Regions from separate parts of the Homo sapiens genome. Here region 1 is linked to region 2. A link means that fine-mapping ties the variant in region 2 to the expression of a gene that starts in the linked region. Tissue or cell type: whole blood. Region 2 holds a variant in brackets; the other region holds the start of a gene. All regions are shown on one strand. Distances are from middle to middle. Region 1 holds the start of GOLPH3 (golgi phosphoprotein 3). Region 2 has its middle 30 kb from the start of GOLPH3.

What was found.
Region 1: GOLPH3 starts here. The variant in region 2 is fine-mapped to the expression of GOLPH3 in whole blood (TOPMed, PIP above 0.99).

What each region holds. Positions count from the first base shown.
Region 1 is chr5:32,167,756-32,184,194 of GRCh38, reverse strand. GOLPH3 (golgi phosphoprotein 3) reads left to right here and starts at 9,876. Exons shown (of 4, transcript NM_022130.4): 1 at 9,876-10,385. The coding sequence starts at 10,161. RefSeq lists a silencer at 9,983-10,592.
Region 2 is chr5:32,195,638-32,212,076 of GRCh38, reverse strand. No RefSeq gene overlaps it. Among named protein-coding and RNA genes, the nearest start is that of GOLPH3, 30 kb to the right of the region's middle. RefSeq lists a silencer at 313-472. The variant C/T (reference allele first, on the strand shown) is at 7,497.

The DNA of each region.
Region 1 (16,439 bases), 28 kb after region 2:
AAACCATAGCTAATTCAAGATCATGCAGATTTACACCTATGTTTTCTTCTGTGTGTTTTATATTTTTAACCCTTACATTTAGATCTTTGATCCATTTTGAGTCAATTTTTGTATATAGTATGAGGTAGGTATTCAACTTTATTCTTTTGTATGTGGATAAATAGTTCTCCCTGACCTTGTTTGTTGCAAAGACTATTCTTTCCCCCATTCAATTGTCTTGGTACCTTTGTTCAAAACCAATTAACCATAATGTGAGGCCGGGCGCGGTGTTTCACGCCTGTAATCCTAGCATTTTGGGAGGCCGAGGCGGGCGGATCACTAGGTCAGGAGATCGAGACCATCCTGGCTAACACAGTGAAACCCTGTTTCTACTAAAAATACAAAAAATTAGCCGGGCGTGGTGGTGGGCGCCTGTAATCCCAGCTACTCAGGAGGCTGAAGCAGGAGAATGGCATGAACCTGGGAGGCGTAGCTTGCAGTAAGCCGAGATCACGCTACTGCGCTCCAGCCTGGGCAACAGAGTGACTCTGTCTCAAAAAACAAACAAACAAACAAAAAACCCATAATGTGAGCATGTATTTCTCTTAACTATTTTTTGTTGTTTTAAAGTCTACTTTGTTTGATATTAGTATAGTCACTCCAGGTATTTTGTGGCTGCTGTTTTTTACCATCTTTTTATTTTCAACTTACTTGTATTTGTGGCATAACAAATTGCTATAAGTTCAGTGGCTTAAAACAACATATGTTTATGATCTCACTTCCACAGGACAGAGTTTGGCATGGCTTATTGGGCCCTCTGCTTAGGGTCTCACGAGGTTGTAATCAAGGTGTTGGCTGGGTTACACTCTCATCTTGACCTAAGGGTTTTCTTCCAAGCTCATCACGTTGTTGGCAGATTTCGGATGCTTGTGATTATAAGAGGAGACCATTAGCTCTTAGAGGCCACCTTTCTCCATAGGCAGTTCACACATGGCTGTTTTCTTCTTGAAGGCCATCAGAAGAGCATCTCAGCTGACTCAAGTCTCCCTTGTTAGGGAAGGGTTAGAGCCTCTTTTAAGGGTCCACCCGATTATGTCAGGCTCATTATGTCAGGCTCATTTAATGTCTTAGTTCATTTTGTGTTGCTATAAGGGAACACCTGAGACTGGGTAATTTATAAAAAAAAGGTTTATTTGGCTCATGACTGATTCTGCTGGCAGGAAGACCACGCATCTGATGAAGTCCTCAGGCTGCTTCCATTCATAGTGGAAAGCAAAGGGGAGTTGGTGTCTGCAGAAATCACGTGGTGAGAGAGGAAGCAAGAGCGAGTGAGAGGGGAGGTGTCAGGCTGTTTTTAGCAACCAGGTCTCACAGGCACTAACAGAATGAGAACTCACTTGCTCTGCCCCCGACACAGAGGGCCTTAGGCCCTCTGTTTGATCCTCCAACATTGAGGATCAAATTTCAAATTTCTTTTCTTTCTTCTTTTTTTTTTTTTTTTTGAGACAGGATCTCACTCTGTTGCCCAGGCTGGAGTGGACTGCAGTGGAATGATTATGGCTCACTGCAACCTTGATGTCCCTGAGCTCGGGTGATCCTCCCATCTCAGCCTCCCAAGTAGCTGGAACTACAGGCACACACCACCATGCCTCACTAATTTTTTGATTTTTTGGTAGAGAGAGGGTTTCACCATGTTGCCCAGGCTGGTCTTGAACTCCTGGGCTCAAGTGATCTGCCCACCTCAGCCTCCCAAAGTGCTGGGATTATAGGCATGAGCCACCGTGCCCAGCCAGAAATCAAATTTTCAACATGAGACTCGGAGGGGACAAACATTCAAACTATAGCACCCAGGAGAGTTTCTCTTTTGATGAACTCAATATGAATTTATTAGGGGCCTTTTTTTTTTGAGATGGAGTCTAGCTCTGTCACCCAGGCCGGAGTGCAGTGGTGCGATCTCAGCTCACTGCAAGCTCTGCCTCCCAGGTTCACGCCATTCTCCTGCCTCAGCCTTCCTAGTAGCTGGGACTACAGGCACCTGCCACCACGCCCGGCTAATTTTTTGTATTTTTAGTAGAGATGAGGTTTCACCGTGTTACCCAGGATGGTCTCAATCTCCTGACCTCGTGATCCGCCAGGCTTGACCTCCCAAAGTGCTGGGATTACAGGCGAGAGCCATCGTGCCCCACCTATTAGGGGACTTAATTACATCTGCAACATTCTTTCACCTTTTGCCACATTCTATTAGTTAAAAGCAAGACAGAAGTTCTGCCCACACTCAGGAAGAAGGGACTAGAGAAAAATGTAAATGCCGGGGATAAGAATCATGGGACTATCTTAAAATTAAGGCTACAATCAACGGACATGGGCCAATGTAGAACTTCTCTGTACAGGCCTTTTATCTGTTTTGATTTTGAAGTACATGAATTTATTACTTACTCAAAAATAAAATAAAATTTAGTCTTTGTATTTGCCTCAGACTTTTATGTCTTTTACCACAAGGACCTCATTGTGTAGTTGTTTTGGCCCTAAAATCATTAAGTTATTATCAGGTCCTGGTTAAGAACATGGACTCCAGAGCCAGGCTGTGTAACCCTGGGCAAAATCTTGAATCTTTCCGTGCCTGTTTCTCTTTTCATAAAATGGGCTAATTACAGTACTCCTAGCTTAGGTCTCTCTTCCCCTTGTTACAAAGTCACCAGTCCCACTCCCATGATAACCCATTAATCCATTAATCTGTAAATGGATTAATCCATTCATGAGGGCAGAACCATCATGACCCAGTCACCTCTTAAAAGCTGTACCTCTCAATACTACTACATTGGGGCTTACATTTCAACATGAGTTTTGGAGGCACAAATATTCAAACCATAGCAACCTGAAAACATTTACAGCCTTCTCTGGAATATATACATGCTTAATAAATATTTGCAGCAGATTTTTTTAAAAAGAAGATTGTTGAAAGCCTCTGGAAGATTTGCTAGTTAGTTCAATAATGCTGCTGTGTTTCAGAATAAAGCTAGTGTGGAAATGTAAAATGATGCAGCCACTCTGGAAAACAATTTCCCAGTTTCCTTTTTTTTTCTCTGTTTTAGATCCAGGTACAGACTGGATCTCAGTTTCTTAAAACAAACAAACAAACAAATTAAACACATATAATTACCATATGATCCAATTGCACTCCTGGGTGTTCATCTCAGAGAAATGAAAACTACATCCAAATAAAAACATAGGCCAGGCGCAGTGGCTCACGCCTGTTATCCCACCACTTTGGGAGACTGAGTAGGCGAATCACTTGAGGTCAGGAGTTCGAGACCAGCCTGGTCAACATGGTGAAACCCCATCTCTACTAAAAACACAAAAATTAGCAAGGCATGGTGGCACGTGCCTGTAATCCTAGCTACTCGGCAGGCTGAGGCAAGAGAATTGCTTGAACCCGGGAAGCGGAGGGTGCGGTGAGCTGAGATCGTGCCACTGCACTCCGGCCTGAGTGACAGAGCAAGACTCAGTCTCAAAACAACAACAACAACAACAAACAAATAAAAACATGTACATGAACGTTCATCGCAGTTTTATTTGTGATAGCCCCAAATTGGAAACAACCGGAAAGTCCTTCAATGGATCCATGGTTAAACAAATATGGTACCTGAGTACCATGAATTACCACTCAGCAATAAAAAGGAACAAACTATTGGTGTATGCAATTTGGACAGATCTCAAGGGAATTATGCAGAGTGAAAAAAGCAAATCTCAAAAGGCTTCATAATGTATGATTCCATTTATATAACATTCTCAAATGACAAAATTATAGATGGAGAACAAAGTAGTGGTTGCCAGGAGTCGGAGATAGAGTCGGGAGAGGGGCTGGAGCTGCCATGACTGTAAAGGGGCAACATGAGGGATCTCTGTGATGATGGAACAATTTTATATCTTTTTTTATTTGTTTATTATGTTTTTTAGAGACAGGATATTACTCTGTGACCTAGGCTGGAGAGCAGTGGCACAGTCAGAGCTTACTGTAGCCTCAAATTCCTGGGCTCAAGTGATCCTCTTGCCTCAGCCTTCCAGGTAGCTGGGACTACAGGCATCGCCACCATGCCTGGCTAATTTTTTTTAAAAAGTCCGTAGGGACGGGGTCTCGCTATGTTGACCAGGCTGGTCTCCAACTCCTGGGCTCAAGCAATCCTCCTGCTTCAGCCTCCCAAAGTGCCGGAATTACAGTTGTGTGCCACCATGCCTGGCTTATTTTTATATGTTGATTGTGGTGGTATTGACACAAATCTACATGTAGTACAATTGCATAGAATGACACACACATAAATCAATGCACATAAAACCCATGAAATCTGAATAATGTCTGTGGATCATACCAATATTAATTTCCTGGTTTTGATAGTGCTATAGTTACATGTTACTACTGGGGGAAACTAAGGGTATACAAGCTCTCTCTGCACTAATTTTGCAATTCCTGTGAATTTATTTCAAATTTTTAAAAATCAGATTTTGAGTCATGATAATAAAGGCTTCTTCTCTCCTTGATTACAAAAGAATTTACCCATAGTTTTCTTCTGGTGCCTTTCATTTTCTAGGCATTTTGAAATTTTTATTGGGTTAAAACAGAAAGACTCTGGGCCGGGTGTGATGGCTCACACTTGTAATCCCAGCACTTTGAGAGGCCGAGGCAGGTGGATCACGAGGTCAAGAGATTGAGACCATCCTGGCCAACATGGTGAAATCCCACCTCTACTAAAAATACAAAAATTAGCTGGGCGTGGTGGCGCGTGCCTGTAGTCCCAGCTACTCAGGAGGCTGAGGCAGGAGAATCACTTGAACCCAGGAGGCAGAGGTTGCATCGAGCCAAGATCGTGCCACTGCACTCCAGCATGGTGACAGAGCAAGACTCCATCTCAAAGCAAAATCAAAACCAAAAAACAACAATAAAAAAAACCCAGAAAGACTCTGTACATAGAACTACCTACACAACAAATTCTCTTGGAAGTTTTATATACTTCTTAAAAGCTTAACTGAAATAAACTCACGCAAACCTGGTCATTGCCCAGCGATCCCTATATCATCCTCTCCTACACAAGCCAGAAGTGGGAGTAATCCTCGACATCTCCGCTCCTTTATGCCCCAACACTCCGTAGTCAGTCTTTCATTGAGTTGTGTCAGTTTAACTTACTAACTATCTCTTGAATACATTCACTTACCACCCTTTCTTCTTCCACTATTGTGGTCGAACTTACCATCAGGTTCTGTAGGACTACTGCAAAAATGAGCTGCTTCTGTATCCTATATCCATGCCTTGGGTATATCCTGCAAGCTTTTCAAAATGCAAATCTGGTAACATCTCTCACCCACCCATCTCCTCTTCCCCCACGGAGGGCATTTAAAAGTACCCTTGATAGCTTCCCATTGAGTTTGGTTGGATAAAGACCAGATTTTGGCCAGGCACGATGGCTCACACCTGTAATCCCTGCACTTCGGGAGGTCAGGGCGGGCGGATCGCTTGAGCCCAAGAGTTCAAGACCTGGGCAACATGGTGAAACCCTGTCTCTACAGAAAAAAACAACACACAAAAAAACAAAAATCAGCAGTGTGGTGGCATGCACCTGTAGTCTCAGCTACTTGGGAGGCTGAGGTGGGAGGATCGCTTGAACCCAGGAGGCAGAGCCAAAATTGCGCCACTGCACTCCAGCCTGGGCAACAGAGCGAGACCCTGTCTAAAAAAAAAAGACCCAAATCTTAAAATGGCCTTAAAATGGACAGCACTGTATGATTTGGACCTTGTCTGTAACTATTGCTTTTGCCATCACTCCCTCCCTCAGCCCAGGTAAAAACTCTTCTACTTGGTTCTCCTCCATCCCATGATCTGTCTTTTGCTACAGGGCCTTTGCATATTTCCTCTCAGGAATGTCCTCTACCTCCAACTTGGTTAACTTCAGTTCATTCTTTGGCTTATGACTTCTTCAGAGCAGCTTTGAGTCCCAGATAAAAACTTAGGTTTCTCACATATATGACAGTACATGATCTCATAGGACTGTATTCCTTCTTTCAAAGCATTTCTACATTTCTACATTAATTAGCATCAGGATTTGCTTAATATCTGTGCCCTTCATTAAACTGTCAGTTTCATGAAAAGTATGGCTATGTCTCTTTTGGCTTAGTATTGTATCTTTATTGCTTATGACAATGCCTGGCATGCAGCAAACATGTAGAAATATACTTGTTTGATACTGAATTAAGGACCAGGGTTCTAATCCAGGTCTGTGATTTTCCAGAAGTGTTAAGTTGGGCAGATTACTTAACTTCTCTGAACTGTTTCTTCATAGGTAAAATGGGCATCTTAATCTGTGTTCCCTAGGAAGCAGGGCCTAAGACAAAGTCTTTTGTGCTTTATTAGGGAGTGCAACAGCTGGGAGCAGAAGCTAGTGGAGGGAAGCGAGGAGTGAAGGGGTCGTTGAGCTTGCTGGAGCTAAATGCTACTGAGAAGTTGTATAAACGATCTCAGGACAGTTCATGTGAGGAAAGAAAGGGGTCCTGTTATCCACCTGCTTGAAGTGCTTACTCTCCCACACTTGTAGGTAGGCATGGAGGTGCTGCCAGACCGCACTGCATGAGATGGTTGCAGTCCATGTGGAGCTGGTCAGCACAGCAGCAGCACCTAACCTGCAGGGTCCTGGTGGGGGTTGCTGGAGACCGCGCCTGGCACATCTCAGCAGGCAATAAACAAACAATCAAGGCCAGGCGCGGTGGCTCATGCCTGTAATCCCGGCACTTTGGGAGGCCGAGGCTGCTGGATTGCCTGAGGTCAGGAGTTCAAGACCAGTCTGGCCAACATGGTGAAACCCCGTCTCTACTAAAAATACAAAAAAATTAGCTGGGCGTGCCAGGCGCGGTGGCTCACGCCTGTAATCCCAGCACTTTGGGAGGCCGAGGCGGGCAGATCACCTGAGGTCAGGAGTTCGAGACCAGCCTGACCAACATGGAGAAACCCCGTCTCTACTAAAAATACAAAATTAGCCAGGCGTGGTGACACATGCCTGTAATCCCAGTTACTCGGGAGGCTGAGGCAGGAGAATCGCTTGAACCTGGGAGGCAGAGGTTGCGGTGAGCCGAGATTGCGCCATTGCACTCCAGCCTGGGCAACAAAACTCCGTCTCAAAAAAATAAATAAATAAATAAATAAATAAATTAGCTGGGCGTGGTGGCATGTGCCTGTAATCCCAGCTACTCGGCAGGCTGAGGCAGGGGAATTGCTTGAACCTGGAGGTGGAGGTTGCAGTGAGCCGAGATCACGCCACTGCACTCCAGCCTGGGCGACAGAATGAGACTCTGTCTCAAAAATAAATAAATAAATAAATAAAAATTTTTTAAAAAGTAACACTCATTGTTGTAATTAGGAATATTCTCATTCCTAAAATTCCTTCTTTTTTCCTTCCTAAAATATCCTTTCTTCCTCTTCCTGTTTTTAAAATATCTCCTTCCTTCCTCCCTCACTTCTTCCCCAGCTGCCCTCCACCCCCACCCATCATGATGGCTGGGGGTGGAGGGCAGCTGGGGAGGAAAAAAGCTGCATAGACTTTCATGACCTGAGAAGTGCCACACAGTCATGTTGGCCACATTCTATTCATTTCAAGAGAGTCACTAAGTCTGGCCCACACTCAGGGGGAGGGAAATTAGGCTTCACATTTTGAGGGGAGGAGTATCAGAGGATTTGTTGGCATTAAAACCTTCAGGAGAGAAAGGAGAACAACTGGGTGAACAGGGGCAGAGCTGGGAGGGAGATTTTCACTACACATATCTTTGTACTCTTTGAACTACATACTTGACTATATTAGTCAAGTAATTTTTTTTTTTTTTTGAGACGGAGTCTCGCTCTGTCACCCAGGCTGGAGTGCAGTGGCGCAATCTCTGCTCACTGCAAGCTCCGCCTCCGGGGTTCACGCCATTCTCCTGCCTCAGCCTCCCGAGTAGCTGGGACTACAGGGGCCCGCCACCACGCCCGGCTAATTTTTTGTATTTTTAGTAGAGACGGGGTTTCACCGTGTTAGCCAGGATGGTCTCGATCTCCTGACCTCCTGATCCGTCCGCCTTGGCCTTCCAAAGTGCTAGGATTACAGGCGTGAGCCAACGCGCCCAGCCAATTTTTTTTTTTTTTTTTTGAGACAGGGTCTTGCTCTGTCTCTCAGGCTGGTGTGCAGTGGCACGATCACCCTCATGGCAGCCTCAAATTCTGGGCTCAAGCGGTTCTCCTGCCTCAGCCTCCCGAAGACCTGGGACTACAGATGTGGGCCACTACTCCTGATTAACTTTTTTCACATAATAAATTAATTACATTTATTTTACAAAGAAATATTTCAAGCTACAACATTTGGTAAAATCAGAAAAGATGAAGAAAAAAGGTCCAAAGAGGGTGTGGGCTGGCGCGGTGGCTCACGCCTGTAATCCCAGCACTTTGGGAGGCCAAGGCCGGCGGATCACGAGGTCAGGTGATCGAGACCATCCTGGCTAACACGGTGAAACCCCGTCTCCACTAAAAATACAAAAAATTAGCCAGGCGTGGTGGCGGGCGCCTGTAGTCCAGCTACTCAGGAGGCTGAGGCAGGAGAATGGCGTGAACCCGGGAGGCAGAGCTTGCAGTGAGCCGAGATTGTGCCACTGCACCCCAGCCTGGGCAACAGAGCAAGACTCCGTCTCAAAAAAAAAAAAAAAAAAAAAAAAAAGAGGGTGTGAATGGGAGAAATTGGTTGAGGTGAAATCGACCTTCACCAAGACAGGTGGGAAAAAGGGAAGGTCTACTTGGTGTGCCCCCTGGACCCTCTCTTCCCTTCATTTAGCACTGTCACTTTCCAGGGCATGGGATGGTAGGCAGCAGCAGTTCTGGATAATGGATTTGTGGAAGAGAAGAATCCATCTAAAGCACTCTTTAGCCACAGCCCATGATCACTTTTTTTAAAAAATTTTTATTTTTTGCTTTGCTGTTGTTCCACTCTGTCCATACATTGTTTAATACAGGATGGCACACAATACCATTCCTGGTTAAATGTTTCACTTAACAAGCGCCACCCTCTACTCCTCCAACTCCTGTCTCAGGTTTGACAGCTATTTTTTTAACCTAATTTGCGCACGCCAAGAGGATTTCACCTAGTAACTACACGGAGAGACATCCGATGCGTACAAAGACGTGGCATGAAACGCTGCAGGTTTATTGTCTCTATAAAAAGATCGTTAAGGTCGAGCGTGCTAACGTGTGCGGTACTAACTGTACTCACTACGCCCTGGTCACTTTATAGCACAAGTCCGAGGCAAGGAAAGAAGTTTTACAAACAAAACTGGTCAACTGTTCTATCTTCTTACTCCTGGAAAACAATAAAGGTCCACTTTCAAACCATTTGGACGCACTTGCTCCTTCTAAAGGGTTAGGGAGTCCCGGCAGATAGCGTACCCCTCCCCGCCCAGCAGCAGAGAGCAAAGTCCTTCCTGCCGATCCTGCAGACCCCGGAGTCCAAATGGGACCCCGTCCACACGACCGCGGAGTCGCCTCCGAAGACGGCGGTGTCTGGGGCGTGGAGGGCACGGCTGGAGGCTGAGTGGGGTCCACCTTCGCGTGGCCCAGGCTCTTCCATTCACGGGGGGCCCCGCCAGGTTCAGGCTCCAGCCCTGGGTAGTGAAGGGGAAACGGGGAACGGAAGGAGGGAGGGCACGTCACGGGAGCAGGACTGCAGGACCGCGGGTCAGGGGGCGCAGGAACGCCAAAGAAAAGACAAGCACCGAGGGCCGGGAAGGGTGTAGGCTGCAGTGGCAGCGGATCCCCGGCCGCCGCTTCCGGCGCCTCCCGGCCCAGCTCTCCCGCGCCGACTCTGCCACATCCTCCGGTGACGTCAGCCGGGGCCGCCATATTGGAAAGGCGCCGCCGCCGCCTCCGCCTTGGAGCTCGGGGTGTTTCGGGGACTGCGGCCACAGGCAGGAAGGCGCTCCTCTCCTGCCCCGCCGACGCCCGGCCAGCCCGCTTCGCCCTGACCTGTTTCCTCATGACTGCCCCCGGCCCTGCTGCCGACGGACGTCGCCCCGGCGTCCGGATTTAACACGGAAACCCGGATCGGAGGCCGCGCGGGGAGGAGGAGGGCGACCCGGTCGGTCCTGCGACCCTCTCGGCCCGGCTCGGCGCCTCGGCGGGAGCCATGACCTCGCTGACCCAGCGCAGCTCCGGCCTGGTGCAGCGGCGCACCGAGGCCTCCCGCAACGCCGCCGACAAGGAGCGGGCGGCGGGCGGCGGCGCCGGCAGCAGCGAGGACGACGCGCAGAGCCGCCGCGACGAGCAGGACGACGACGACAAGGGCGACTCCAAGGAAACGCGGCTGACCCTGATGGAGGAAGTGCTCCTGCTGGGCCTCAAGGACCGCGAGGTGCGGGCGCGGCGGGCTGGGCGGGGGGCGGCGGCGCGGGGCCCGGGCGCCAGGTGAGCTCCAGGTAGGTGCCAGGTGAGCGCCCGAGGCTTCCGGCCCGCGCACCTGCCCTCGCTCCGAAGTCCGCGCCTGGTGGCGCCCAGCTGACGCCGAGCGGTGTCGGAGTTGGTTGACCCCCTGGCGCGGCTGGTGCTTTCTGGATCCTCCCCGTAGAGATGGCTTGGATTTTTCCTTACCCCTTTCACAGTCGCTCCTTTCATTTCGACACCCTGGCAGTTTGTATTTCTTCGTCGCCTTTTTTCCGCGTTTTTAACCCGTGTAGACCCCAGGGTGCAAATCCAACCCGGAGACTGCCCGGGAAACTAACAGCTGGAGCCACCAGCGCCACGAACTCTTTGGGTTTTTGCAGGCTTTAGGACCTGGGAGGGGTGCCCGGATCTGCTTGCTGGGGATGTTTTTTTTTTCTTCTTCTTCAGTTAAAGCTTACTGTTGGGAATTACGAAAAACGTAGGCGAAGTGGTAATAGAGGGAAAAGCTCTTTTACTGAGTAAAGTTAAGTTAAGTTTCTCATGAAACCTCCTGGTAAATGACTTTCTAGGTGAACTTACATTAGGTGAGAGATTATTTTTAGTATCGCTTTTATATTTTATCAGTTGATGAATCTCAAAGTCTTGCCGTCTTAAGAAAGGGCTTTTTCATCGAGTGCTTGAAATGTAGGTTTGTGAGTTGATCAGAGGCCTCAAAGCTTCAGGTGGGTTGAAGTTGCAATAGATAATTCTTTGTATTCTGACTTTGAAAGCGTTTATTTTCACTTCAGTGTCCAAAATTTTCACACACAGAAAAGTTGAAAAAGTGATAGATACATATGCATATATACTCTTTCTAGATTCTATGACGTTTTGCTGTATTTGTTATATTTGCCTACAAAAATGATTATTTATTTATGTGGAGACGGAGTTTCGCTCTTGTTGCCCAGGCTGGAGTGCAATGCCGCGATCTCGGCTTACCGAAATCTCCGCCTCCCGGGTTCAAGCGATTCTCCTGCCTCAGCCTCCTGAGGCAGGCATGCGCCACCATGCCCGGCTAATTTTGTGTTTTTGTTTTGTTTTGTTTTTGAGACGGAGCCTCAGTTTGTCGCCCAGGCTGGAGTGCAGTGGCGCGATCTCCACTCACTGCAAACTCCGCCTCCCGGGTTCAAGCGATTTTCCTGCCTCAGCCTCCCGAGTAGCCGGGACTACAGACGTGCGCCGCCATGCCCAGCTAATTTTCATACCTTTAGTAGAGACGGGGTTTCACCATGTTGGCCAGGATGGTCTCGATCTCTTGACCTAGTGATCCGCCTGCCTCGGCCTCCCAAAGTGCTGAAATTACAAGCTTGAGCCACCGCGCCCAGGCCTGATTTTAAGAAAGTTTTCCAAATTCAGGAAGGTGGGCAAAAAAAAAAAAAAAGTCTTACAAAACAACGTAATCTTTCTTGGTCACTGAAACTTACTAGATATAGGCGAGTTTTATATGGACCGTTTATGGACCTTTCTTATTTAGAAATCTAATGAACTAACGGTTAGCTTGATAGATACGTCTGGGGCATTTGCCATATCTTGGTTTCCCATTTCTCAGGTTTTAATAACAGTAACCTTGAAAAAAGTTGATGTTCCTCTGGCTGTGAAAGGGCTGCTGTACCTGTTTAATTATTGAGTTGTGATGATAAAGCAGGCTGTATGTGCAGTTCCTTGTTCTTTGGATGAAAAAGTAAACTAGGGGTATAGCGTCCTAGTAATGTAATTTTTAGAAAATATTCAACTTTAGGTTTCAAAATTGGAAATCTTGATTATAAACATTTGTCTTTTTTTTTTTCTTTTTTTAGACGGAATCTCGCTCTGTCGCCCAGGCCTGGAGTGCAGTGGCGCCATCTGGGCTCACTGCAACCTCCCCCTCCCGGGTTCAAGCGATTCTCCTGCCTCAGCCTCCCAAGTAGCTGGGATTACAGGCATGCACCACCACGCCCTGCTAATGTTTTTATTTTTAGTAGAGACGGGGTTTCACCATGTTTGTCAGGCTGCTTTTGAACTCCTGACCTCAAGTGATCCACTTGCCTCGGCCTCCCAAAGTGCTGAGATTACAGGTTTGAGCCACCACGCCCGGCCATAAACATTTTTCTTTTTGGACAAAAATAACATTATTATAGACATTTTAGAAAATACAAAAAAAAAGAAAAGCAAAATTAAAACATATTCCTGAGTGAACATTTTGGTTTATAGTTTTTGAGAGTTTTCCGTGTGGATAAAACTCGGTGGAAAACAAAAACCTGAAAAAAAAAAAACTAAAAAATAAGCTTTTGGTGTTCTGAGTCACACTGAGAAATTATAGTGAGGAAATACCTATTTGTTTTTTCAAGTACATGTTACTCTAAATCAAGCTTTTCCAACCCGCGGGCCAAATGTGGCCCAGGATGGCTTTAAATGCGGCCCAACATAAATTGGTAAATTTTCTTAAAACATTATGAAATTTTTTTTGCAATTTTTTTTTTTTAAAGCTCATCAGCTATTGCTAGTGTTAGTGTATTTTATATATGGCCCAAGACAGTTCTTCCAGTGTGGCCCAGGGAAGCCAAAAGGTTGGACACCCTTGCTCTAAATGTTTAAGGTGAAGCATATTAACATGCTGTTTTTCGGTGATTGGGTCTTAAGAAGATAATCTAAATAATTTGTTGAAGTTTAACCATACTCACATAATTTAAACAATTTAAAGTTATTTGGCGGGTAATTGAAACCATGTGTTCTGTTTATTTTGCATCAAGAGTCACTCATTATACTTTGCTAGTCATGGCTAAGGTCCAGATGCTTGCTAGCTTATTGTGAGCATTTCTTCCTGATTTCAGCAACCACATGGGGAAATTTTTTCTCTTTTTTTTTAGGCAAGTCCAGAGAGTTGAGGGGTGGGGTTGAGACTACTGGGATTTTGTATTGCTTTAGGTTTTGGTTTTAGGGATTAGCCTATATATTTTTTCCTTTCATCACATCTTTAAAATTTTTTTTTTTAAGAGATGGAGGTCTCAAGATGTTGCCCAGGCTGCACTCAAACTCCTGGGCTCAAGTGATCCGCCCTGAGTAGCTGGGAATACAAGGTGCATGCCATCAAGCCAACTCATCATGTCTTTACACTCTAATAACCAGCCCTGTCAACTTATCTGTTGGTATGTTTTTCCCTTGGGAGGCTCGCCACCATGTTTTTAACCTATAGTACTCTTTTTAGGAGGCAGGAATTGCTGTCTTACCCTGAGCCCAGGCGTTTATGCTAACTCATTGCTTTAACTGATTTTTACTTCAGCATTTATCTTTTTAATGTCTGGATTCTCCTAAGAACTTTAAAAGCTAAACTTTACATTTAAGCAAATCATTAATGTTGGAAATATTTTATATATGTGAGCTAATAACCTTATGTGAATATACTTGTTAAACCAGTACCTAGAGCAAGAAACAGAAGCCCTAGCCCTCCACTTGAGTATCTTTCCAGTCACTACCCATTCCTCAGGGGTAACCACTGGCTTAATATTAGAATTCAGCATAGATTAATTTTGCCTAGTTTTTTGTACTTTGTGTCTGCTTTTTGTTCAATGTGAGATTCATCCATATCGTGTGAGATTGTCCTTTGTTCTTATTGTCTTACCAATTTATTTTTAACATGTTTATAATCTATAATATTTAAAAAATTACTTTGACATATTCTGAGTCAAGTCTCCCTCTCTTTTTTGCTGAACAGAAGGTTCAGTTTTTGAATAAGCAGATGGTCTGGCTTCAGATTACCTGTTAGGAGTGAGTCTAAAGTCATTGTGATTGATTTTTTTTTTTTTCTTTACACATTTCAGATTTTTTTTTTTTAACCAATGATATTTGTTTTTTGCTTTTATAAAACAGGGATGGCTAGTCCCCTCAGAAGATTTTCATGCTCACTTGGGCAGAGAATCAGTGCATAAGTATTTAAGTAACTCTTTAAAGACCACAGTAAGGATGGCAGATAGTTTACACCTAAATTCAACTGCCAAGTAATTAGCAGTATTTCTTTAATTGACCCAGTGTTTGAGGGGGAGGGACAGCAAAAGTGCCAGGTATTTTCCTTTCCCTGTGTGTGTTTATTCTATAGATGCTTTCCATAGAATATTTTCAGGATGCTTTATTGAGAATTACCACAAATAACTGGTGTCATATATGTTTGAATGTCTTCATTGGTGGCAAATCTTAGTCTTTTAAGGTTAGATTTAATTATTTTCAGTGGCCAAGTATAATTTGGAGTATGCCTATGGAACAGCAGAAGCAGAGAGAGGCTCTATAGTCCTGTCCAAAGTGTATTCTTTGGCTTTTACATATAATTTAAGCCTTCTGAGCTTCAGTGTTTTCATGTATAATGGAAAAGTAGTCATTCCATATGATGGTTCTGATTGTACTGCTGTGGATGTTTATTAACTCCTCCCCAGGTCTTCGCTTTATTTTGTATTACTTTAGGGTTTCCCCATAGTGTGTTGCCTGTTTTTGAGACAGGGTCTTTCTTTGTCACCCAGGCTGGAGTGCAGTGGTGCGATCTTGGCTCACTGCAGCCTCAACCTCTTGGGCTAAAGTGATCCTCCTGCCTCAGCTTCCCGAGGAGCTAGGACCACAGGCACACACCACCATGCCCAGCTAATTAAAAAAAAATTTTTTTTTTATAAAGACAGGGATTTCACCACATGGCTCAGGCTGGTCTTGAACTCCTGGGATCAAGTGATCCTCCCGCTTCAGTCTCCCAAAGTGCAGGTATTAGAGGCATGAGCCACCGCACCTGTTTTTTTTTTTGTTGTTGTGTTTTTTGGTTTTTGTTTTAAGACAGATTGTGCTGTGTCGCCAGGCTAGAGTACAGTGGCGAGATCATAGCTCACTGCAGCCTCGAACTCCTGGCCTCAAGTGATCCTCCCGCCTCAGCCTCCCAAAGTGTTGGGATTACTGCGACCGGCTCTAGGATGCACTCTTGAAGCATATTATTCCCCTGCTGTTTTGTCATGCAGCCAGACTTGTCCAATCATATGTTTTCTTTCAGGGCTTTGGATCTTGAGAGAATAACGAGCTGTAGGGTTTTTTGGAGACCTTTCCAGAGTCATGTCAGCGTGTGGATCAGACTGTTCTTTGGCATGGTTCTTTGAGCTGCTTTCTCTGGTCTGTTGGCACTGTTTTTTTCCAGTCTGATTTTCCAGTCATCTTTCAGTGTTGTGAGTTTCAACAGCCTTCCAGTAAAGTTGCTTTTTAAAGATAGCCAGAGTCAGTTACTAATGTTTCTAATGCTTGTAGACAAGAACTGTAATACAGTAACTTAACTCTATGTCTTGAAAAATAAGTAGGTACTTGAGGTAAATAATATGTAATGGGGTAAAATACTTAAGATTAACCAAAATGATAGAACTGACTTTTGTGTGGCTTTTACACAGGCTCCAAAGATGTTTTCCATTTTTGGAATAAGGTTCCCAAGGTCACTACTTTGAAGTATAATAGTGATGAAGATGTATAACTTAACAAAAATTGTTTTCCTTTCTATACGTGTGGTGATGTCCACCATCTCTACATATCAAATCTGTAAATCAGAAATTCAGTCAACAAGTATTCAGAATTTCCAGATGTGCTGAGTTTTAGTAATTTAAAATATAATAAAGGCTTCTGAGTTTTTAATGAATTTTCGTTGTTTCTAAGACAAATGATATTTCCTTCATATTTTTTGAAGTTTTGAATTTTTATCTATTTTTTTCAGGTGTTTAAACACAGGTATGAGATATACAGGATCTCAGAAATTACTTTTGAAGTTCATTAAACTATTTGATTGTACTTTTTTTCTTTTGAGACAGGGCCTAGCTTTGTCTTCCAGACTGGAGTGTGGTGGTGTGATCATGGCTCATTGCAACCTCGACCTCCTGAACTCAAGCAATCCTCCCTCCTCAGTCTCCTGAATAGCTGGGACTATAGGCGCACCCTATCATGCCCAGCTAATTAAAAAAAAAAATTTTTTTTTGTAGAGACGTGGTCTCACTATGTTGCC
Region 2 (16,439 bases):
GCTTGAACTCGGGAGGTGGAGGTTGCAGTGAGCCGAGATCATGCCACTGCACTCCAGCACTCCAGCCTGGGCCACAGAGTGAGACTCTGTCTCCAAAAAAAAAAAAAAAAAAAAAGTCAAAATTCTAGTTTAATTTACATAAATGCATGGAAAAGTAGCAGGAAAACATTCCCAAATGTTAAGATAAGTTATCTCAAAGCAATGGATTTATTGGTCATTTTTTTCTCCTTTTTATATATTATTTTATTTTTATTGACACATTAGATGTTCATATATTTGGGGTTATATATATATATATATATATTTATTTATTTGAGTTGGAGTCTCGCTCTGTCACCCAGGCTGGAGTGCAGTGGCTTAATCTCAGCCCACTGCAACCTCTGACTCCCGGTTTCAAGCTATTCTTCTGTTGCAGCTTCCTGAGTAGCTGGGACTACAGGCACCTGCCACCACACCCAGCTAATTTTTGTATTTTTAGTAGAGATGGGGTTCTCCATGTTGGCCAGGCTGGTCTCAAACTCCTGACCTCAAGTGATCCACTCGCCTCAGCCTCCCAAAGTGCTGGGATTACTGGCATGTGCCACCACACTCGGCCTCTTTATATATTTTTTAATTGAACTTTTTCCCTACAATGAACTTGTGAGTTAGCTATTGATTTTTTTCCCTTTGGTTGCGAAAGAGAGAAACCCAAATTGATTGTGCTTTAACCAAAGGGGGAAGTTGTCATAAGGATCCTGTTCTATCTCAGAAACTCAATGACAGGAAATAGCAGGGCCTCCCCAGTTACTGGAACCAGAAATGCAAATGCTGCCTACGTTCTTTCTCCATCTCAGGGGCTCCTCTCAGTTTGTTTACTCTGTTTCCTCCCCACTTTCTCTCTGGATCAGTTTTCTCTGGTCCAAGTGAGGGAAAATGTGCATCCTAAAGCCCCTGACTTAAAAATTTATAACCCTGGGACTTTCAGATCTAAATCTCCAGAGTAAGGATTGAGAGTGTCTCAGCTGGGATAAGTACACAGCCCTGAGGCAGTCACCTGCACACGGGCAGAATCATGGCGCACTGACATGGCGGCTTCCATGGTAATCATGTGTGGTGTGCATGTGCGTGTGTGTACAGAAGAGTACATGTACTGTCCACACACACACACGTACCCCCCACACTATTTACAAAGCAATAGTCTTCACAACAACATGGAACTTTATCAAAATTAGAAAAAAAATCTTTAAAATCTTATAAATTGTGTATAACATTGTAAATCAGCATTTATTTCTACCTCTCATTTTTAAACACCTAAACTCATACTTTTTTTTTTTTTTTGAGATGGAGTCTCTCCCTGTCACCCAGGCTGGAGTGCAGTGGCTCGATCTCAGCTCACTGCAACCTCCACCTCCTGGGTTCAAGTGATCCTCCTGCCTCAGCCTCCCGGGTAGCTGGGATTACAGTTGTGCACCACCATGCCTGGCTAATTTTTCTATTTTTAGTAGAGATAGGTTTCCACCATGTTGGCCAGGCTGGATAATACACTCATTCTTAATTAGTGGTCTCACAAATTCTCTCTACTAGTCACAAAATGTAGAGAGTATCTTCTTCAACCATGTCATTTTAGAGAGGATAAACTCAAGCCCAGAGGGGTGAAATGACTTGCCAAGCCACCCCCCCCAGGGGGTTCACGGAATGTCCTCTCAGCAGTTTTCGTGCCAAGTGCATTTCTTCTCCCCTGCCCAAACCACCCATCCTTCATTCACCCTCTCCACACCGAGCTTGGGCCCCAAGACTATTCAGAACAAAGTCTTGGAAGCACAGTGGACCTGGTGGTCCCACAGCACTGCTGCTCTATTCAGCTGCATTTCCTAGACCTGGACACCCACTGAGTCTCTTCAGTCTCTTTTCATGCATAATTAACTCTAACTCACAGATCATAGGCAGGGCAAAGGTATACCGGAGGGGGGTAGGCATATTCCAAACAAAGGGAGCCTCCTACCTCCAAATGTTACAGATTGTTCATCTGGGAGTCCAAATACCTGAACACATACCTCCACGTATGTATTTTTAGTAGAGATGGGGTTTCTTTTTATTATAACATTTTATTACAACAGGATGGAGACCAGGCGTGGTGGCTCACACCTGTAATCCCAGAACTTTCAGAGGTCAAGGGAGGAGGATCACCTGACCCGGGAGTTTGAGACCAGTCTGGGCAACACAGGGAGATCTCATCTCTACAAAAAATTTAAAAAATAGCTGGGCAAAGTGGTGCATGCCTACAGAACCAGCTACTCAGGAGGCTGAGGCAGGAGGATTGCTTGAGCCCGGGAGGTCAAGGCTGCAGTAAGCTGTGATCACGCCCCTGCACTCCAGCTGGGCAACAGAGCAAGACCCTGCATCAAAGAAAAAACAAACCAGGATGGCAAAAATGCTAATTTTTTTTTTTTTTAATTTATTTTTTTATTGATAATTCTTGGGTGTTTCTCACAGAGGGGGATTTGGCAGGGTCATGGGACAATAGTGGAGGGAAGGTCAGCAGATAAACAAGTGAACAAAGGTCTCTGGTTTTCCTAGGCAGAGGACCCTGCGGCCTTCCACAGTGTTTGTGTCCCTGATTACTTGAGATTAGGGATTGGTGATGACTCTTAACGAGCATGCTGCCTTCAAGCATCTGTTTAACCAAGCACATCTTGCACCGCCCTTAATCCATTTAACCCTGAGTGGACACAGCACATGTTTCAGAGAGCACAGGGTTGGGGGTAAGGTCACAGATCAACAGGATCCCAAGGCAGAGGAATTTTTCTTAGTGCAGAACAAAATGAAAAGTCTCCCATGTCTACTTCTTTCTACACAGACACGGCAACCATCCGATTTCTCAATCTTTTCCCCACCTTTCCCGCCTTTCTATTCCACAAAGCCGCCATTGTCATCATGGCCCGTTCTCAATGAGCTGTTGGGCACACCTCCCAGACGGGGTGGTGGCCGGGCAGAAGGGCTCCTCACTTCCCAGTAGGGGCGGCCGGGCAGAGGCGCCCCTCACCTCCCAGACGGGGCGGCTGGCCGGGCGGGGGGGCTGACCCCCCCACCACCTCCCTCCCGGACGGGGCGGCTGGCCGGGCAGAGCGGCTCCTCACTTCCCAGTAGGGGCGGCCGGGCAGAGGCGCCCCTCACCTCCCGGACGGGGCGGCTGGCCGGGCAGGGGGGCTGACCCCCCCCCCACCTCCCTCCCGGACGGGCGGCTGGCCGGGCGGGGGGCCGACACCCCCACCTCCCTCCCGGACCGGGCGGCTGGCCGGGCAGAGGGGCTCCTCACTTCCCAGTAGGGGCGGCCGGGCAGAGGCGCCCCTCACCTCCCGGACGGGGCGGCTGGCCGGGCAGGGGGGCTGACCCCCCACCACCTCCCTCCCGGACGGGGCGGCTGGCCGGGTGGGGAGCCGACCCCCCCACCTCCCTCCCGGACGGGGCGGCTGGCCGGGCAGGGGGCCGACACCCCCACCTCCCTCCCGGACGGGTCGGCTGGCCGGGCAGAGGGGCTCCTCACTTCCCAGTAGGGGCGGCCGGGCAGAGGCGCCCCTCACCTCCCAGACGGGGCGGCTGGCCGGGCGGAGGGCTGACCCCCCCACCTCCCTCCCGGACGGGGCGGCTGGCCAGGCGGGGGGCTGACCCCCCCACCTCCCTCCCGGACGGGGCGGCTGGCCGGGTGGGGGGGCTGACCCCCCCATCTCCCTCCCGGACGGGGTGGCTGGCCGGGCTGAGGGGCTCCTCACTTCCCAGTAGGGGCGGCCGGGCAGAGGCGCCCCTCACCTCCCGGACGGGGCGGCTGGCCGGGCGGGGGGCTGACCCCCCCACCTCCCTCCCGGACGGCACGGCTGGCCGGGCGGGGGGCTGACCCCCCCACCTCCCTCCCGGATGGGGCGGCTGGCCGGGCGGGGGGCTGACCCCCCCCCACCTCCCTCCCGGACGGGGTGGCTGCCGGGCGGAGACGCTCCTCACTTCCCAGATGGGGTGGCTGCCGGGCGGAGAGGCTCCTCACTTCTCAGACGGGGCAGCTGCCGGGCGGAGGGGCTCCTCACTTCTCAGACGGGGTGGTTGCCAGGCAGAGGGTCTCCTCACTTCTCAGACGGGGCGGCCGGGCAGAGACACTCCTCACCTCCCAGACGGGGTCTCGGCAGGGCAGAGGCGCTCCTCACATCCCAGATGGGGCGGCGGGGCAGAGGCGCTCCCCACATCTCAGACGATGGGCGGCCGGGCAGAGACGCTCCTCACTTCCTAGATGTGATGGCGGCTGGGAAGAGGCGCTCCTCACTTCCTAGATGGGATGGCGGCCGGGCGGAGACGCTCCTCACTTTCCAGACTGGGCAGCCAGGCAGAGGGGCTCCTCACATCCCAGACGATGGGCGGCCAGGCAGAGACACTCCTCACTTCCCAGACGCGGTGGCGGCCGGGCAGAGGCTGCAATCTCGGCACTTTGGGAGGCCAAGGCAGGCGGCTGCTCCAAAAATGCTAATTAACAGGAAGAAAAAAATTACTCGGTAGGGCAGACAGCCTCTAACATGGCTCCCAGGGTTCATGGCTGTGTAATCTTCTCTCCTTGTGTATGGGTGAACCTAGTCACTTGCTTCCAACAAACAGGACATGGCGCAAGTGATTAGATCACAGAAGACTGTGATACCTCTTTCCCTTTTGTGGAGCCCTTGGTTTGAGAAAGGGAAGCTGTCATTTTGTAGAGCTGCCCTATGGAGAAGTCAATGTGGCATGAAAGTGATGTCTCCGGCTGACAGCCATTGAGGGCCTCAGGCCTCCCAATGGCCGCACGAATGAGCTCAGAAATGGATCCTCCCCCATTTGAACAGTGAGCCAGAAACCTGGTCTACAGCCCCACACCAAACCTTGACTGCCGTTTTGTAAGAGATCTGGAGCCAGAGGATCTGGTTAGGCCATCCCGCCTTACAAAAACTGTCCCACAGAAACTGTGAGATCATAAAAATTGTTTGGTTGTTTTAAACTACTAAATTTGGGGGGTAATTTGTTATGTAGAACAGTTGGCTAAAACACTTAGTCAGCAGCCGCCTCACGTTGAGAAGATGTAAATTTCATGAAGGAAGGTTACTTCTTGCTGAGCTGGAGACTAAGCTGAAAGCGAAATTTAAAGTGGAAAGATCTAGCAGAGCTGTGCCTACACATCTGGTGGCAGGTAATTTTGCCACAGTCCTTAGTAGATCACCAAGGGTTTCCTAATACAGAATGTAATCTATTTTTATTTTATTTTTCATGATTCTTTTGGAAACAAGGTTCTTTTTAAGGAAATGGGTGTGCATTGAAAATTATTTTTGTTCTGTCAACAGAATTGTTAAATAAAATATGAGTCACTAGGCATGGTGGCTCACGCCTATAATCCCAGCACTTTGGGAGACTGAGGCGGGAGGATCATTGGAGTCTAGGAGTTCAAGATCATCCCGGCCAACATAGTGAGACCCGTCTGTACAAAAAATAAAATATTAGCTGGCCTGTAGTTATTTCCAGCTATGTGGGAGGCTTCAGCCCAGGGAGGTTGAGTTTGCAGTGCGGCATGATCACACCACTGCACTCGGCATGGGTGACAGAGTGAGATTCTGCCTTAAAAAAAAAAAAAGATTCTGAGCCTATATCTGTAATTGTTTAGGAAAAATGGATTTCCTCCATTTTCAGCTAACACAGATGTTTTTGATCATAGTAGCATATTGTAGTTATCAATAGCATAAACTCGGACCCCAGACTACCTAGGTTCCAATCCTGGCTTTGTGACTTTCTAACTATAACTCTGGGAAATTAATTAATCTCTCTTTACCTCAGTTTCTCCATCTGGAGAATGGGGATAATAGTGGTATGTACCTCATAGGGATTTTATGAGGATAACATGAATTAATACATTTAAAGTTAGCCTGGGCAACGTGGCAAAACCTTGCCTCTACAAAAAATTCAAAAAATTAGCTGGGCGTGGTGGCACACGCCTATAGTTCCAGCTACTCAGGAGGTTGAGGTGGGAGGATTGCTTGAACCCGGGAGGCAGAGGCTGCAGCGAGCTGTGATTGCACCCCTGCACTCCAGCCTGTGCAACAGAGTGAGACCCTGTGTCAAAAAAAAAAAAGCTTCAAACAAAATAGTGTGCAGCATACAGTTAGTGCTATGAGGTTAGCTGCATGTTAGGAGAAGGTCAGAGAGGCACACTGGGTGAACCAGTTTGCAGAATCTACCCTAGGAACACTGCACCATGCGGTGAAAGTTCATGTAGCAAACACCCTCCCTTCCAAGTGCTGGACAGACTAACACCTTAAAGTTTACACAGAAGAGAAACCGTGCTTCCTCTGATTCCAACTTTGGAAAAACTCAGTCATGGGTATTTTAAATAGTTAATGTGGCCAGGGACAGTGGCTCATGCCTGTAATCCCAGCACTTTGGGAGGCCAAGATGGGTAGGTCACCTGAGGTCAGGAGTTCAAGACCAGCCTGGCCAACATGGTAAAACCAGTCTTTACTAAATATACAAAAAAGTTTAGCAGGGCATGGTGGCAGACAGCTGTAATCCTAGCTACTTCGGAGGCTGAGGTAGGAGAATTGCTTGAACCCAGGAGGCGGAGGTTGCAGTGAGTGGAGATCATGCCGTTGCACTCCAGCCTGGGCAACAAAGCAAGATTCTGTCTCAAAAAAAAAAAAAAAAAAAAAAAGTTAATGGATGTGATTTCTTTCCTGTGTAATGCTTTTAATTTGTACACCATCATAAAAGACACTACAAGTATTTTTTGTTTTGTTTTGCTTTGTTTTGTTTTTAAGATGGAGTCTCACTCTGTTGCACAGGCTGGAGTGCAGTGGAGTCATCTCGGCTCCACTGCAACCTCCACCTCCTGGGTTCAAGCGATCCTCCTGCCTCAGCCTCCCAAGTAACTGGGAGTACAGGTGCCCACCATGCCTGGCTAATTTTTGTATTTTTAATAGAGATGGGATTTCTCCATGTTGGCTAGGCTGGTCTTGAACTCCTGACCTCAGGTGATCCACCCACCTCGGCCTCCCAAAGTGCTGAGATTACAGGCGTGAGCTCAGCATAAGGCACTGCAAGTATTAAGAGCAGAGCAGGGCCCTGAAGGACTCCTTGTTCCCTTTCCCCCACCTCCCTTTACTAAAGCTCCTCTGGGAAGAAGAGTCTGTGGAGAGCAGGGCAGAGGCAGAGCCCCTTGCTCCCTGGGACTGCCCCTGAGTCCCCTGAATATGTGCAGAGGAATGTCAGCATTCCTGCCCTGCAACCCATAATGTTGACTTGGGAATCTGAGTAGAGGAGACCTATGTCTCACTCCCCATTGGTAGCCCCCAAAAGAGCACATTTCGTAGAATTCCCCACACACCATGGAAAGGGCTGGTAGGGTAGATGATGGGGTGGCAGGGCCGGGGGGCATATCATAAGAGAAGTCCGAGGTGGTCTAGAGTGGCAGGGGAGAAGAGCAAGATGATGGTTTCCATACCCCCAAGAGTGGTCTGGAGGAG[C/T]GGAGAGAGGGTCAAGGAATCCAAAGGGTCTTGTGCAGGACGGGGACACGCAACCGCAAAGGCCAGGAGAGAGCCGCCTTCTACTTTTCTCTCATCTGGTCCTGAGGTCTTCCTCCAGAGAGTGGCTGTAAACTAGCCGAGCCCTGACAGGTCTTCAGGAGATTTGATCACGATGTTTATGATGTGCCTTTTAGGGGACTCCTCTCAATTTTAGCAGCTGACCTGATGCCTGTGTCCAACTCTCTATCAGCTGTCCCTCTCACAGGATAGACTTGTTTATCCTGGCAGACACACTTGCGGCTCTTGTCTGACCTCTGTCCAGTTTATTCCTGCCAAGACCACCACTCCCTAGGAGAGCCCTGGCCGGGAAAGGAGCTGGGTTCTGCGTGGCAGTTAGGTGAGATGTAAAAGCGACATCTCAATGAAACATATGAAATAACAGAAGTAGTTTATGACTTACAGATCCCAGAGGGAAGCGGGTGACTGCCTCACACACAGGGCTAATGGAAGGAGGGTGCTATCTTGGGACATGTGCGCTCCATCAACAAGTGGGGAGCAATAGACAGACAGAGAAACCTGTGGGTTTGGGCTCCAGGATGTTCCTCAGGTGAGTTTCCTGCAGGGAGTTCTACCTGGCAGGTTAACAGCAAGCAGGTGGCAGATCTCCGGAGTCACAATGGGACTGCAGCATATGTACAAAGTGCAGTGCGGGGATCAGTGGGACCAATGAAGTGGGTTGTATCCTGTTGTCCCTGGGAGGGAGTGGTCACCAGGTAGTGGTTGCATAAGGCAGACATCTGGATCCATTGCATTGAGGAACTGGGCAGAGGCAGAAAATGGGAAACTGGCCGGGCGCAGTGGCTCACGCCTGTAATCCCAGCACTTTGGGAAGCCGAGGCGGGCAGATCACGAGGTCAGGAGATCGAGGCCATCCTGGCTAACACGGTGAAACCCTGTCTCTACTAAAAAATACAAAAAAAGTTAGCCGGGCATGGTGGTGGGCGCCTGTAGTACCAGCTACTTGGGAGGCTGAGGCAGGAGAATGGCATGAACCCGGGAGGCAGAGCTTGTAGTGACCTGAGATCAGGCCACTGCACTCCAGCCTGGGTGACAGAACGAGCCTCTGTCTCAAAAAAAAAAAAGAAAATGGGAAACTGTGTCAAGGGTGACTAAACCTTGCCTCTGGTATGGGGAAGTCCACTTGTGTTCAAAATGAATGCAAAGTAAAATTATAGGAATTCACTACAAAGCTCCTTTCTCATGCCACGTCTTAGTATGGTTTAAGAGGATCTCCCCTTAAAGCCTATATGGGACGCTAGAAAGAAGTGGGAAAACCCGGAAATGACTGAAAACATCCTGAATTGACAGTTTCACCCAAATTGACTAAAATTAAGTTTTCATACAAAAGCAGAGTGAAGGCTTTAGATAGAAATTAAAGGCTGGGTGCGGTGGCTCATGCCTATAATCCCAGCACTTTAGGAGGCCGAGGCGGGTGGATCACTTGAGGTTGGGAGTTCGAGACCAACCTGGCCAACATGGTGAAACCCCATCTCTACTAAAAATACAAAAATTAGCTGAGCATGGTGTAGTGTGCCTGTAGTCTCAACTGCTCTGGAGGCTGAGGTGGGAGAATTGCTTGAACCCAGGAGGCGGAGGCTGCAAAGCCGAGATCTTGCCATTGCACTCCAGCCTGGGTGACAGAGCCAGACTCTATCTCAAAAAAAGAAAAATAAATAAATAAAGTCTAATTATAGACACACAAGATTATGTTTTTGCACACCTAACTTTGTATTCTGGATAATAAACTGGCAGGCTTTACTTAGTCATACAAGCTGAAATGTGGTTGGAAAACCATAAATTATACCATGAAATGTTCATTATATAAGAGGTTAAAAAATTCAGATTAGGATTTCTTCCCTAGTTCTATTTGGACCATGTGTGGACTTGGTGCAATGCTGGGTGGATATTTCCCTAAAGTATCATCAGTATTTCTAAACACACATTTCCACCCAACAACTGATCTCATCTACTGGAATGATTTCTCTTGAACTAACATTGGTGTTCATGAAATAAAACAAAAAGTCTTAGTCATAAGTGTAGCTGCTCTTTGGAGGGCAAAATCAAATGGTTGGGAGCAAATAAAAATTAAATTTTAGGCCGGGCATGATTTTGAATAATTCCAAACGTAAAGAAAAGTTGCAAAAATAATAGAGAACTCTCATATAGCCATGATTCAGATTAACCAAATTTTTTTTTTTTTTTTTTTTGAGATGGAGTCTCGCTCTGTCGCCCAGGCTGGAGTGCAGTGGCACAATCTCCGCTCACTGCAAGCTCTGCCTCAAGGGTTCACACCACTCTCTCACCTCAGCCTCCCGAATAGCTGGGACTACAGGTGCTCGCCACCACGCCTGGCTAACTTTGTTTTTGTATTTTTAGTAGAGACGGGGTTTCACCATGTTAGCCAGGATGGTCTCAATCTCCTGACCTCGTGATCTACCTGCATTGACCTCCTAAAGTGCTGGGATTACAGGCATGAGCCACCGCGCCCAGTCCAGATTAACCAACTTTTTTACATTTTGCCACATTTGTTTAATTATTCTCTCTTCTTCCCTCCCTCTGTATTTATTTTTTCCAAACCATTTGAGGTTATAAAGATCATGCCTTTATTATACTCTTAATACTTCAATGTGTAGTTCCTAAGAACAAATATAGTTTCTTACATAATCCAAATACAATTATCAAATCAGAAAATTTAACCTTGATACGTACTTTCACCTACTCTATAATCCATATTCCAATTTTGTCAATTATACCAATAAAGTTCTTTACAGCATCCCCCCAGTCCAAGTTTCAACCAAGGATCACATATATGCCTGAAGGGGTCATGTTTCTCTAATCTTCTTTAATCTGGAATGGTTCTTCAGAATTTCTTTCTCTTTCATGACATTGATATATTTAAAGAACACAAATCGGTTGTTTTATAGAATGTTCTTCAGTTGGGCTTGCCTGGTGTTTCCTCGTGACTTAATTCAGGTTTTTGGTCCCCTGCCAAACTATGAAAAAAGTGATGTTATATTCTTTTCAGGGTACCTGGAGGCACAGTGTGTCAATCTGTCCCTGGGTTAATTTTAGTCACCTGATCCCAGTATTGTCCAGTTTCTTCACTGATAAGTTACTATTTTTCTTTTGCAACTAATAAGTAATCTGTGGAGAGCCACGTTAGGACTGACTAAATATCCTGTCTTTCATCAGACTTTATCTCCCTAGATTTAGCAATCAATGCTATTTCTTGCCCAATTTTTTGCTTTGATGATAGCAAAACAGTGATTTTTCAACTCCATCCCTCCCTCCACATGTATCAATCTAATGTACATCTCACTATAAGGAAAGCCCTCCCTTACTACCTCCATCTATTTATTTACCTACTTATCAGCTGCCTGAATTGATGATTAATTTTTTTTTTTTTTTTTTGAGACGGAGTCTCGCTCTGTTGCCAGGCTGGAGTGCAGTGGCGCGTTCTCGGCTCAGTGCAACCTCTGCCTCCTGGGTTCAAGCGATTCTTCTGCCTCAGCCTCCGAAGTAGCTGGGATTACAGGCATGTGTCACCACGCCCGGCTAATTTTTTTGTATTTTTTTTAGCAGAGATGGGATTTCACGGTGCTGGTCAGGTTAGTCTTGAACTCCTGACCTCGTGATCCACCCGCCTCGGCCTCCCAAAGTGCTGGGATTACAGGTGTGAGTCACCGCGCCTGGCCTGATGATTAATGTTTTATTCAATAAGTTGTAATCCTTTACTGTCCTGATTTATTTTTAGCTCAAAATTATCCCAGACTTGGCCAGCGGGCTCTCCTTCTCCTTCAAACTAGCTCTTGTCCTTTTGACATGTCCCGATATTTTCCTTCCCTTCCCCTTCCTTCTCCTCCCCTCCCCTCCCCTTCCCTCCTTCCCCCCTCCCAACTCCACTCCCCTCCCCTCCCCTCCCTCCCTCCCTCCCTTCCTTGCTTCTTCCTTCCTTCCTTCTCACTTTCTTACTTTCTGGCATATCAGAATGTTCCTGTGTTCCTGGCTAACCTTGTGCTTTTCCTGCCCCAGCCCCGTATCCAGCCATTCTTCCAAGGAGTCCCAATTTTTTTTAAAGATAGAATAGGACTTAGAAAGACATGGGCACACCTCTTGCATTTTAAATGAGGAACTCATTGACCCCCAAAAAACATTGCTCATGATTGAATTGTTGGTATTCTGTCAGGTTAAGATTGTATTTTTCATTTGTTCCAAAATAAAGTAGAAGTATCCCTTGCCATTTCTTCTGAATATAAAAGCAATATATAATCACTATGAAAAATTCAGAAAATAAAAGCTAAGAACATATTAAAAATCACTTGTTGTTCTATCACTTAGAGTTAACCACCTTGAGATATTAATGGTGATGGTCATCATTAGGCAACTGTAATACTTCCCAGTATGAATGCACCAAAAATAATATATTTCACCAAAATACAATTGTTGGATATTCCCAGTTTCTCTGTGTGTGTGTGTGTGTGTGTGTGTGTGTGTGTGTGTGTGTATTTCTTCTGGGTAAAGTCCCAGAAATGTAATTGCTGGGTTAAAAATGTATGCATATTTATAAGCAAAGAAAATGTGCTCAACATTATTAATCATCAAGGAAATGAAAATTAAAACCACAATGAGACAGTGCCTTCATGTTTCCATGAAACATGCTCATAACACTCCACATATTTTATATATTTACACAAATATGTAAAACATGTTTAGCCAGCAATACCAGTTGTCGGCAAGAATGGAGAGCAACGGCTGGGCGCGGTGGCTCACACCTGTAATCCCAGCACTTTGGGAGGCCAAGGCGGGCGGATCACCTGAGGTCAGGAGTTCGAGACCAGCCTGGCCAAAACGGTGAAACCCTATCTCTACTAAATATACAAAAATTAGCCGGGCCTGGTGGCGGGTGCCTGTAATCCCAGCTACTTGGGAGGCTGAGGAAGGAGAATTGCTTGAACCTAGGAGGCAGAGGTTGCAGTGAGCCGAGATCGTGCCCCTGCACTCCAGCCTGGCGACAGAGTGAGACTCCTTCTCAAAAAAAAAAAAAAAAAAAAAAAAGAATGGCGAGCAACTAAAACTCTCTATACCACTGGTAGAATTGTAAGTCCTAATAACCACCTGTAAACACACACACACACACACACACGCACATAACTGAGCTACTTCCATGGAAATAATTTACCTGGGGTAGGAGAAAAACAAAAGTGATAATTGTGGAGTGTTATGAGCATGTTTCATGGAAGGGGACAGGGAGGGAAGTAAAGGATGGTAATAAGTTTCAGAAATGAAAGATGGAGGGACCTCCCTGCTTCCATCACGCCACTTTGTTACTCTCCCTACTTTACTCCTGATGAAATAGCACAGTGGAGAGACCACGGGGGCTGGACACTGGTACTTCATCTTGTCTATTTCAGTCATTTAAATCCCATCAGCCAAAGAACTGATCTCTTCAATCTCATCTTTCTAGATCGTAATTTCATATCATCCCTGTCTTAAGGTTCAACTCTTAGTTCAAATTCTAATAGCCTTTATAGGCTTATTTTTCTATTGCAAACCAAAAACATTCTTTTATTTTTGAAGTTAGGCAATCTGAAAGATGCCTGTCAATGAACACACAAACCACCATTGAAAAGAAACTTTTTGTCTGGGCGTGGTGGCTCACGCCTGTAATCCTAGTATTTTGGGAGGCTGAGGCGGGTGGATTGCCTGAGCTCAGGAGTTCAAAACCAGCCTGGCCAACATGGTGAAACCCCCGTGTCTACTAAAAATACAAAAAACATTAGCCGGGCATGGTAGCGCATGCTTGTAGTCCCAGCTACTCCGGAGGCTGAGGCAGGAGAATTGCTTGTACCGGGGGAGGCGGAGGTTGCAGTGAGCCAAGTTTGCACCAGTGCACTCTAGCCTGGGTGACAGAGGGATACTCCATCTCCAAAAGAAAGAAAATAAACTTTTCTCATGAGGAACAAGTGGGAGATGTCAGGTCAGTGGTAACTGGAATAGAATTGACACCCCAGCCCCTTAAGAGCTTGGTTAAGAGTGGGAGCACATCTCAGACTGGTGGGTGTGTCTTTGATGTAGCTGGAAGAATTGCCACTGTTTTACTAACATGTCAGGTGCAATACAATTCAGTGTGTAAGGCCCATCTGACATTTATGTTCCTCTTTGCCCAGTGATCTGGCCTTTGCAGAAAGCAAACCTACTCATTTCTCCCCTTTCCCCTTTTACTGAGACAAATAAATAAATAAAAATAAAACTGACAGGACAGACCAAAAGGCTGAAAAGAGCTATGATTTCAGACTTAGCTAAGGCTATATTACCTCAAAGTGGGTAACGACCTTTGGAAAAGATATTAAAATTTCCAGGTCATGAGGTACCCATTAGTATAATCAGGCAAAATGTATTAGCAGAGGCTAATAGGATAAAAGAATCAATGATGGGCCGGGCGTGGTGGCTCACGCCTGTAATCCCAGCACTTTTGGAGGCCGAGGCAGTTGAATCATCTGAGGTCCGGAGTTCAAGACCAGCCTGGCCAACATGGTGACATCCCGTCTCTACTAAAAATACAAAAATTAGCCGGGCATGGTGGCATGCACCTGTAAACCCAGCTACTCGGGAGGCTGAGGCAGGAGAATCGCTTGAACCTGGGAGGTGGAGGTTGCAGTGAGCTGGGATCACGTCACTGCACTCCAGCCTGGGCGACAACAGCAAAACTTCGTCTCAAGAAAAAAAAAAAAGAATCAATGATGCTTCCATGTTGTCTCCAGGGTGGCTGTCTATAGTGAGAGATGACTAATTCTAATGGAAACTTTCTACATTTGTGTTATAAGCCTTCCTTTCTTTCATTTTTTTATTTTATTTTTTATTTTTTATTTTTTTGAGATGGAGTCTCGCTCTGTCGCCCAGGCTGGAGTGCAGTGGCACCATCTCAGCTCTCTGCAACCTCTGCTTCCCTGGTTCAAGCAATTCTCCTGCCTCAGCCTCCCGAGCAGCTGGGATAACAGAAGCCTGCCACCACGCCTGGCTAATTTTTGTTATTTTTAGTACAGGCAGGGTTTCACCATGTTGGCCAGGCTGGTCTTGAACTCGCGACCTCAGATCAGCCTGCCTCAGCCTCCCAAAGTGCTGGGGTTACAGGCGTGAGCCACCCCGCCTGGCCTTCTTTTATTTTAAAAGCCTATAATATAACCGAGTATTAACTTTACCCAAGGAACTAAAAATAGTAGAGTTACCAAGAATGGTAAACCTATTTCAAGGCCACTTTCATTAAGAAACTCTTTGGGAGAGTGAAATTGCTTTCCAATTGCTCGTCTCAAATTCTAGGTCTTACTTAACCTCAGCTTCGGAATCTTAATTTTCCTGCCACTAGGGTATTCTGTTTCCTTAGTGAGTAGCCATTCTAAAGTTCCTTAGGAGAAGTCACTAAAGAAACAGTTAAAGGAGGCTGGGAGTGTTGGCTCACACCTGTAATCCCAGCACTTTGGGAGGACGAGGTGGGCGGATCACCTGAGGTCAGGAGTTTGAGACCAGCCTGACCAACATGGTGAAACCCTGTGTCTACTAAAAATACAAAAAAGTTAGCTGGGCGTGGTGGCGGGCGCCTGTAATCCCAACTACTCAGGAAGCTAAGGCAGGAGAATCGCTTGAACCCGGGAGGTGGAGGTTGCAATGAGCCGAGATAGTGCCATTGCACTCCAGCCTGGGAGACAGAGCAAGACTCCATCTCCAAAAAAAGAAAAAAAAAAGAAACAGTTAAAGGCAAAGGAAAAAAGGATGTCAGAGAGTATGTTTCATGTCAGTTGGGGAAATCAAGACATAAGCTGTGGCTGAGCGCAGTGGCTCACACCTGTAATCCCAGCACTTTAAGAGGCCAAGGCAGGTGAATCGCTTGAGTCCAGAAGTTCGAGACCAGCCTGGGCAACATGGTGAAACTCCATCTCTACAAAAAAATGCAAAGATGAGCCAGGGATGGTGGTGCATGCCTATAGTCCCTGGTACTCGGGAGGATGAAGCAGGAGGATCGTTTGAGCCCAGGAGGCAGAGGTTGCTGTGAGAGCCAAGATCACGCCATTGCACACCAGCCTGGGTGGCAGAGTGAGACCCTGTCTCAAAACAAACAAACAAACAAACAAACACAACATAAGCTGCTTTGTTCAATTCATGTTTAATTAATAACATGGAATGTATCTTATAGAAACACTCAGCATGCAGTTGTTTGTAAAAGGGTGTTTATGGCAGAACCACTGGAATAGTGAACATTTTGACATAAGTTAAATGTCCATCGCAACAGAACTGATTAAGTTGTTTATCTATACTGTGGAATACATTTCAGCCACTAAAAAGAGTGAGGTATATGCCATATATCCATGTAACAGAATTGTATTTGTACTCCTTAAATTTACACCAAAAAAGACTGATGTAGAGGTAAATGAACTGATAGGAGGAGATCCCCAATACATAGTTAAGTGGAAAAAGCAACTTGTAGAACAATGTATATGGCATGATCGTTTTACACTAAAAATCTCTATGATATATGTGTAGGTGTACGCATGTAAATGTGCAGAACGGAGGTGGGAAGACTGGGCACCAAACTCCAGTCCTGGTTACTCTGGGGGAAGGAGTGGACATGGCAATGAGGATAAAAGGTGATATATATTTTGCTCTCTAGAATTCATTCTCTTTTTTTTTTTTTTTTTCTGAGACGAAGTCTCACTCTGTTACCCAGGTTGGAGTGCAGTGGCATGATCTCGGCTCACTGCAACCTCCACCTCCTGGGTTCAAGTGATTATCCTGCCTCAGCCTCCCAAGTAGCTGGGATTACAGGCATACACCACCATGCCTGGATAATTTTTGTATTTTTATTAGAGACAGGATTTCACCATGTTGGCC